Linked DNA regions of Homo sapiens. The protein of the gene in region 2 binds, or shares a complex with, the protein of the main gene of each other region. Each region holds a gene or a part of one and is shown on either strand. Other genes may lie near its edges.

Region 1 (3,409 bases), about 40 Mb from region 2:
CAGAAAACCTTCCAGTTAAGGAGGGGTCCGCTGTGCTCCTGTAATACTTAGGTTGAGGTGATAACTAGCCTTAACTAGCCAGGTTGGTCACCTTGGTTACAAGCGTGTGTCTTCTTTTCCAGTAAGTAGGGGGGTTTTCTGTTCATCGTTTCGATTAGTTTAATTCCACAGTGGTCAGAAAGCGTGGATTGGGTGGTTTCATTCATTTGAACTTGATTCAGACTTCCTTCTTTGCCCACCTTGTGGTCAGCTTAACATATGTGCTGTGTGTGTCTTTTTTTGTTTGTTTGTTTTTGAGACAGTCTCACTTCGTTACCCAGGCCGGAGTGCAGTGGCACAATCTTGGCTCACTGCAACCTCTGCCTCCTGATTTCAAGTGACTCCTGTGTCTCAGCCTCCCGAGTAGCTGGAATGGCTAATTTTTTTTTTTTTTTTTCATTTTTAGTAGAGATGGGGTTTCACCATGTTGGCCAGGCTGGTCTCGAACTCCTGACCTCAGGTGATCCATCTGCCTCAGCCTCTGGCAGTGCTGGGATTACAGGCATAAGCCGCCGCCATGCCCGGCTGAAGTTACCGTTTTTAATTTTTTGCTAGGCAAAAGTGAAGTATTTTTCCCAATTATTGGTTTAGGACCGATTAAACAAGTTAAAGATAGTCTAGTAAAAGATGTCTATTTTTTTAATCTGATGGAGCACATGACCGAAGTAACTAAATCCACCAACAGCCCCTCTGCACAGGGGTTTCTGGTGCTGTCCCTGAGGCTTCACGTTTGCAGACAGACTGTTGAGAGAGGAGAATCTCGTATATTTTGGACCTGCAGCCAGGATTCCTTAAAATTAGCAATGGAAGCAAGTCCAGTCTTACACTTGTATGAGTAATTTAATCGCCTCAAACACTCTTTCTTTTTGCAGCCGAGTGCTTATTTCTACAGATGTCTGGGCCAGGGGGTTGGATGTCCCTCAGGTGTCCCTCATCATTAACTATGATCTCCCTAATAACAGAGAATTGTACATACACAGGTAAGGTGCAAGCTCTCATTGGCTTCACTTCTGTGACACATTTACTAAATCTTGATTGTTATATATACTAACTGTAATATTATTTTATTCCTGAAGAATTGGGAGATCAGGTCGATACGGCCGGAAGGGTGTGGCCATTAACTTTGTAAAGAATGACGACATCCGCATCCTCAGAGATATCGAGCAGTACTATTCCACTCAGATTGATGAGATGCCGATGAACGGTAGGAAATCGTCCAGCTCTACTGTAATTGTAGAGGGAACTTCCCTATTCTTAGTTTGGGGCACCTGAGTTTGTTTTTTTGTTGTTGTGGGTTTTTTTGTTTTGTTTTTGAGACGAAGTTTCGCTCTGTCACCCAGGCTGGAGTGCAGTGGCGCGATTTCGGCTCACTGCAACCTCTGCCTCCTGGGTTCAAGCAATTCTCCTGCCTCAGCCTCCTGAGTAGCTGGAATTACAGACACGTGCACCATAGCCAGCTAATTTTTGTATTTTTAGTAGAGACGGGGTTTCACCATGTTGGCCAGGCTGGTCTCGAACTCCTGGCCTCAAATGATCTGCCCACCTCAGCCTCCCAAAGTGCTGGGATTACAGGCGTGAGCCACTATGTCTGGCCTGTTTTTTGTTTTGAGAAGTCTGTTGTGAGGTTTTAGTTAAATTTACGTTAACAAATTTTCATTTTGTTTGTGTTGTTCCTTAATCTGTTTCTTTCTTCACTTTCAGTTGCTGATCTTATCTGAAGCAGCAGATCAGTGGGATGAGGGAGACTGTTCACCTGCTGTGTACTCCTGTTTGGAAGTATTTAGATCCAGATTCTACTTAATGGGGTTTATATGGACTTTCTTCTCATAAATGGCCTGCCGTCTCCCTTCCTTTGAAGAGGATATGGGGATTCTGCTCTCTTTTCTTATTTACATGTAAATAATACATTGTTCTAAGTCTTTTTCATTAAAAATTTAAAACTTTTCCCATAAACTCTATACTTCTAAGGTGCCACCACCTTCTCTAGTAACTTACTGTGTAGTCTTGGGTCATTTCACTCACTTTTCTTTTTTTCTTTTCTTTTTCTTTTTTTTTTTTGAGACAGTCTCCCTCTGTTGCCCAGGCAGGAGCGCAGTGGCGTGATCTCCTCTCACCGCAAGCTCCACTTCCTGGGTTCATGCCATTCTCCTACCTCAGCCTCCCACGTAGCTGGGAGTACAGGCGGCCGCCACCATGCCAGGCTAATTTTTTTGTATTTTCAGTAGAGACGGGGTTTCACCGTGTTAGCCAAGATGGTCTCGATCTCCTGACCTCGTGATCCACCCACCTCGGCCTCCCAAAGTGCTGGGATTACAGGCGTGAGCCACTGCACCCGGCCCATTTCACTCACTTTTCTAATCTTTTTTTTTGGAAAGAGTTTCATCGTTGATGAGTTTTGCTCTGCTGCCCAGGCTGAAGAGCAGTGGCACCATCACAACTCATTGCAGCCACAACCTCCTGGGCTCAAGCGATCCTCTCACCTCACCCTCCTGAGTAGCTGGGACTACAGGTGCATGCCAGCACATCTGGCTAATATTTAAATTTTTTGTAGAGACAGGGTCTCACTTTGTGGCCTAGGCTGGTCTGTCACTCATGGGTTTAAGTGATTCTCCCATCTTGGCCTTACAAAGTGCTGGGATAACAGGTGTGAGCCACCATGCCTGGCCTCATTTTTCTAATTTTTTTTTTTTGTTGTTTTTTTGAGAGCCCAGGATCTCCCTGTCGCCCAGGCAGGAGTATAGTGGCAGGATCATGACTTACCACAATGTTGACAAACTAAAACAGATAATTATCTGTTTAAATATTTAAATTATTAAAGTATTTAAGTTATCTGTTGAAATATTTAAAGTAATTACCTGTAGCTTTATAGGCACACAGCACCACAGCTGCCCAATTTTTAATTTTTTAAATGTTTTTAAAGACAGGGTCTCCCTCTGTTGACCAGGCTGGTCTTAAACTCCTGACTTCAAGCAGTCCTCCCGCCTCAGCCTCTCAAAGTGCTGGGATTACACACATGAGCCACAGACCGGGCTCTAATATTTGAAATGGAAATGTTAAAACTGGCCCCTCCCTTCCTGAAATTAGTTGGGATGATAATCTTTATTTCCGGGTTAGGGTGAGCTTGGAAATAATTTTTAAATTTCATCAGGTGATTCTACTTGAAGGCATCTGAAATTCTATAGTTTATGAATGGAACTTCCTTTCACTGAAACTGTGACTGGACCCTTGCTAGCCAGCTGGTGGCTGGTAGACCAGCTGCATCATCAGGAGTTGGTTAGAAATGCAAGTGCTCGGGCCCTGTCCTGGCTTGCTGAGTGAGAACCTGCAGGTAACAAGACTCCCAGGTGGCACTGCTGGCCGAGCGGGAGGA
Region 2 (3,749 bases):
CGCCTACCGGGTTCACGCCATTCTGCCTCAGCCTCCCGAATAGCTGGGACTACAGGCGCCTGCCACCACGCCCGTCTATTTTTTTTTATTTTTAGTAGAGACGGGGTTTCACCGTGTTAGCCAGGATGGTCTTGATCTCCTGACCTCGTGATCTGCCCGCCTCGGCCTCCCAAAGTGCTAGGATTACAGGCGTGAGCCACCGCGCCCGGCCTTGAATTTTCCTTTCATCTCTGAAGGCATTCATAATTACTTCCAGTTTCATGTTATCTATAAATTTGATAAACATCAGGATCCTTAACCATGTCATTTATAAAAATTTTACTCAGGAAAGGCCGGGCGCGGTGGCTCACGCCTGTAATCCCAGCACTTTGGGAGGCCAAGAACGGCGGATCACGAGGTCAGGAGATCGAGACCATCCTGGCTAACACGGTGAAACCTCATCTCTACTAAAAACATAAAAAGTTAGTCGGGCCTGGCGGCAGACACCTGTAGTCCCAGCTACTCGGGAGGCTGAGGCAGGAGAATGGCGTGAACCCGGGAGACGGAGCTTTCAGTGGGCCGAGATCACCCCACTGCACCCCAGCCTGGGCGACAGACAGAGTGAGACTCCCTCTCAAAAAAAAAAAAAATATTTTACTCAGGGAAGAATTCTATGCCATGGTGGCCTTTGTTTGATAACATACATTATTAACGTGCACTCCTGTAGGTGCACTAAAAACTTAGCTCATGCACTTTGTATATCCTTATAATGGTCCAAAGAAAACACACTGATTCTTTTCAATGGTGGCCAATGCCTTGCCAAAATGAAATAATTTCCATAAACCTTAAGAAGGAAATAATGTCAGGATTTTGAATCAACATCTGTTTCTACTGACCATTTATTTTTAAATAGGTTCTAAAATCCTGACAAGGGCAGTAGCTCATGCCTGTAGTCCCAGCACTTTGGGAGGCTGAGACGAAAGGATCGCTTGATCCCAGCCAGGAGACAAGCCTGGGCAAGAGCGAGACCCCATCTCTACAAAAAACAGAAAAATTAGCCGGGTGTGGTAGTGTGTGCCCGTTGTCCCAACTACTAAGGAAGCTAAGGCAAGGAGGTCACCTGTGCCTGGGAGGTCAAGGCTGCAGTGAGCCGCGCTACTGCACTCCAGCCTGGGCAACAGAGTGAGACCCTGCCTCGAAAAAGCCAAAACAAAACCGGTAATACTGGCATCATACCAGCCTGCACTTTGGGACAGGTGATGGCTGGGGTGGGAAGAAACGTGAAGAGGAAATGAGAACACAGAGAAAACGCTGCAACAAGAAGTCCTCTGGCTTCACTGCAGACAACTGGTTTCTCCTTCGCCCGTTATCTTAAACAAGGCTGGTGCAGCAAATCTGACGCAGCACTACAGCTTTTAAGATTTACCTTGATTCGTGATTTTACCAAGCAAAGGAATGCAGTAAATTGACCTGCTTCAAACGTAGGTAGAAGTGAGAAATGGAAACAGAAAACCATGAAACAGCCCTAGTGTTGCAGTGAAGCTGTGACAGGTTGACTCCTTCCACTCGGGAAGCCCAAGATGGCCGGGCCAGGAACCCGGGAGGCTGCTGAAGTCTCAATTCCCCTCGCCCTAGGCCTGCCCAAGGGAAGTCAGGAGCCGCGCCACGCCCCCTTACATCACCGATAGACGTAATCCGGGTCGGCCGCAAACGTGCCGCAGGCCTAGGCCCCGCCCAGTGCCCCGCCCCTCCCCCAACACACACACACACACACACACACACACACACCCCAACACACACACACACACCCCAACACACACACACACACACACACACACACACACACACACACACACACACACACACACAGCGGGATGGCCGAGCGCCGCACGCGTAGCACGCCGGGACTAGCTATCCAGCCTCCCAGCAGCCTCTGCGACGGGCGCGGTGCGTAAGTACCTCGCCGGTGGTGGCCGTTCTCCGTAAGATGGCGGACCGGCGGCGGCAGCGCGCTTCGCAAGACACCGAGGACGAGGAATCTGGTGCTTCGGGCTCCGACAGCGGCGGCTCCCCGTTGCGGGGAGGCGGGAGCTGCAGCGGTAGCGCCGGAGGCGGCGGCAGCGGCTCTCTGCCTTCACAGCGCGGAGGCCGAACCGGGGCCCTTCATCTGCGGCGGGTGGAGAGCGGGGGCGCCAAGAGTGCTGAGGAGTCGGAGTGTGTGAGTGCGCGCAGGCGGGGCGGGGTGGGGACCGGGCGGCGAGCCGGCCGGGGGCGGGGTGTAGGTGATGCTAGGTAGTCTGTGAGTTGATAGTAGATACTGGGACTTTTTTTTGTTTTTGAGAGAAAAGGGGAGTTATCCCAATGCGAGTTTGCATCCGGAGTTCCAAGGGAAGAAGAAGGATTGGGGGTTTCTGGGAGGATGGTAGAGCCGCTGGAGATGGAAAGCGGATGTTTTATTCAGAAGTCGGGGCTGGAGGGAAGGAGACCAGACCTGCCTTGGCTACTACTTGATAAAGATTTACCTATCTCTGTCTCCCTCTCCAACCATTTTGTGCTGAATCTTCAGCTTTTCACCCACATTTCTTTATTGGGCTCCCCACCTCTGGAAATCACAGAACTAACCCATGTCTTCTGCTTTCTTTCAGGAGAGTGAAGATGGCATTGAAGGTGATGGTGAGTAGCATCTTTTACCCCATTAGGACAAGAGTTTTTTTTAACATAAACTCAGGTCATCTATTTCCAACATCGACATTCTCACACACTGTCACGGATTTAGGGCCACAGAGTGCCTTTTTGTAACATAGTGGTTAAGAGCATAGGCTTTAGCAGTATAGTCTTCAGCAAGTTACCCTCTGAGCCTGTTTCTCCTTTTGTAAGTGGGGACTATAATTTTATCCACGTTGTAGGTTGATGTCAGAATTAAATGAGACTCTTAGTCTGACCTGTAATAAGCAGCCAAAAAATGTTTCTGGGTTTCTTTTTTTCCACATATTTCTGTTTTATTTCAGCTGTTCTCTCGGATTATGAAAGTGCAGAAGACTCGGAAGTGAGTATGACAGGTTTTTTCCTATGGTATAGATCAGAAATGCTTTTTAAAAACGTGTACACACCTTCGTTGCAAACGTACCATGACCTCCGTGTTTATCCTCTTGTGTATTCTTCATTTATGCTTCTGAAAAAGTGTTACAGAAGGTCTTGTTCACTTTAGACCTAGGGAAAACTTGGGGCACGCCGTCTCAAGCCACAGGTGTTATACTGTTAGTTGGCTTCTCTTCCTGTCTGAAGAATATGAGGTTCTAAATAAGAGAGTGAGGATATCTTGAAGTCCTCTGAAAGATGTTTGACAGTTTGTTTTATGCAGTGTAGGTTGAGAAGCCAGCCAATTGGTTATTTTTTTCCAAATCTATCTGAAGACTTTGAAAGGGTAGGATTCGGAATGTTTTGTGCCAAGAGCATCCATCATTTTATAGGTGGGGATTTTTCTGTTTTTAGGAGAAAGTTTCCTGTCTTTTGGATAAACTACTAGAGATGCCATCAGAGTAAGTGTTTGTTTCCTGGGTTGTTGAGTGGACTCCTGAGTTCTGGTAATGGGATTATATATAGGGGGAATTGGATGGTGGATCAAAGATTTTGTCTATACATTTTTAGAACTGTTACTACATTTTAGAATCTGTTAAGCCCTTGAGGATGGAATAGTGAACACTATAACAAAATTCCTATCTTTAGAGATCTTACAACTCAATAAGGAAGTCAGACAAACATTCAAGCAA

Evidence for each region. Proteins that work in one complex are often made in the same cells at the same time.
Region 1: the proteins of CASC3 (region 2) and EIF4A3 are in contact, whole or in part, in a crystal structure (PDB 2J0U), measured with the Homo sapiens proteins. Residues at the interface, in NP_031385.2 of Homo sapiens: Arg217, Trp218, Glu219, His220, Asp221, Lys222, Phe223, Glu225; in NP_055555.1 of Homo sapiens: Thr178, Arg179, Lys198, Ile201, Tyr202, Tyr205, Arg206, Tyr207, Leu208, Pro209, Pro210, Thr212, Lys231, Phe232.

What each region holds. Positions count from the first base shown.
Region 1 is NC_000017.11:80,133,838-80,137,246, reverse strand, and holds the end of EIF4A3 (eukaryotic initiation factor 4A-III), read left to right. Parts: intron 1-911; coding exon 912-1,019; intron 1,020-1,115; coding exon 1,116-1,243; intron 1,244-1,740; coding exon 1,741-1,757; 3' UTR 1,758-2,878; downstream 2,879-3,409. UniProt on the Homo sapiens protein: ATP-dependent RNA helicase. Involved in pre-mRNA splicing as component of the spliceosome. Core component of the splicing-dependent multiprotein exon junction complex (EJC) deposited at splice junctions on mRNAs.
Region 2 is NC_000017.11:40,138,583-40,142,331, forward strand, and holds the start of CASC3 (protein CASC3), read left to right. Parts: upstream 1-1,954; 5' UTR 1,955-1,966; coding exon 1,967-2,197; intron 2,198-2,624; coding exon 2,625-2,652; intron 2,653-2,987; coding exon 2,988-3,025; intron 3,026-3,471; exon of another isoform or gene 3,472-3,518; intron 3,519-3,749. UniProt on the Homo sapiens protein: Required for pre-mRNA splicing as component of the spliceosome. Core component of the splicing-dependent multiprotein exon junction complex (EJC) deposited at splice junctions on mRNAs.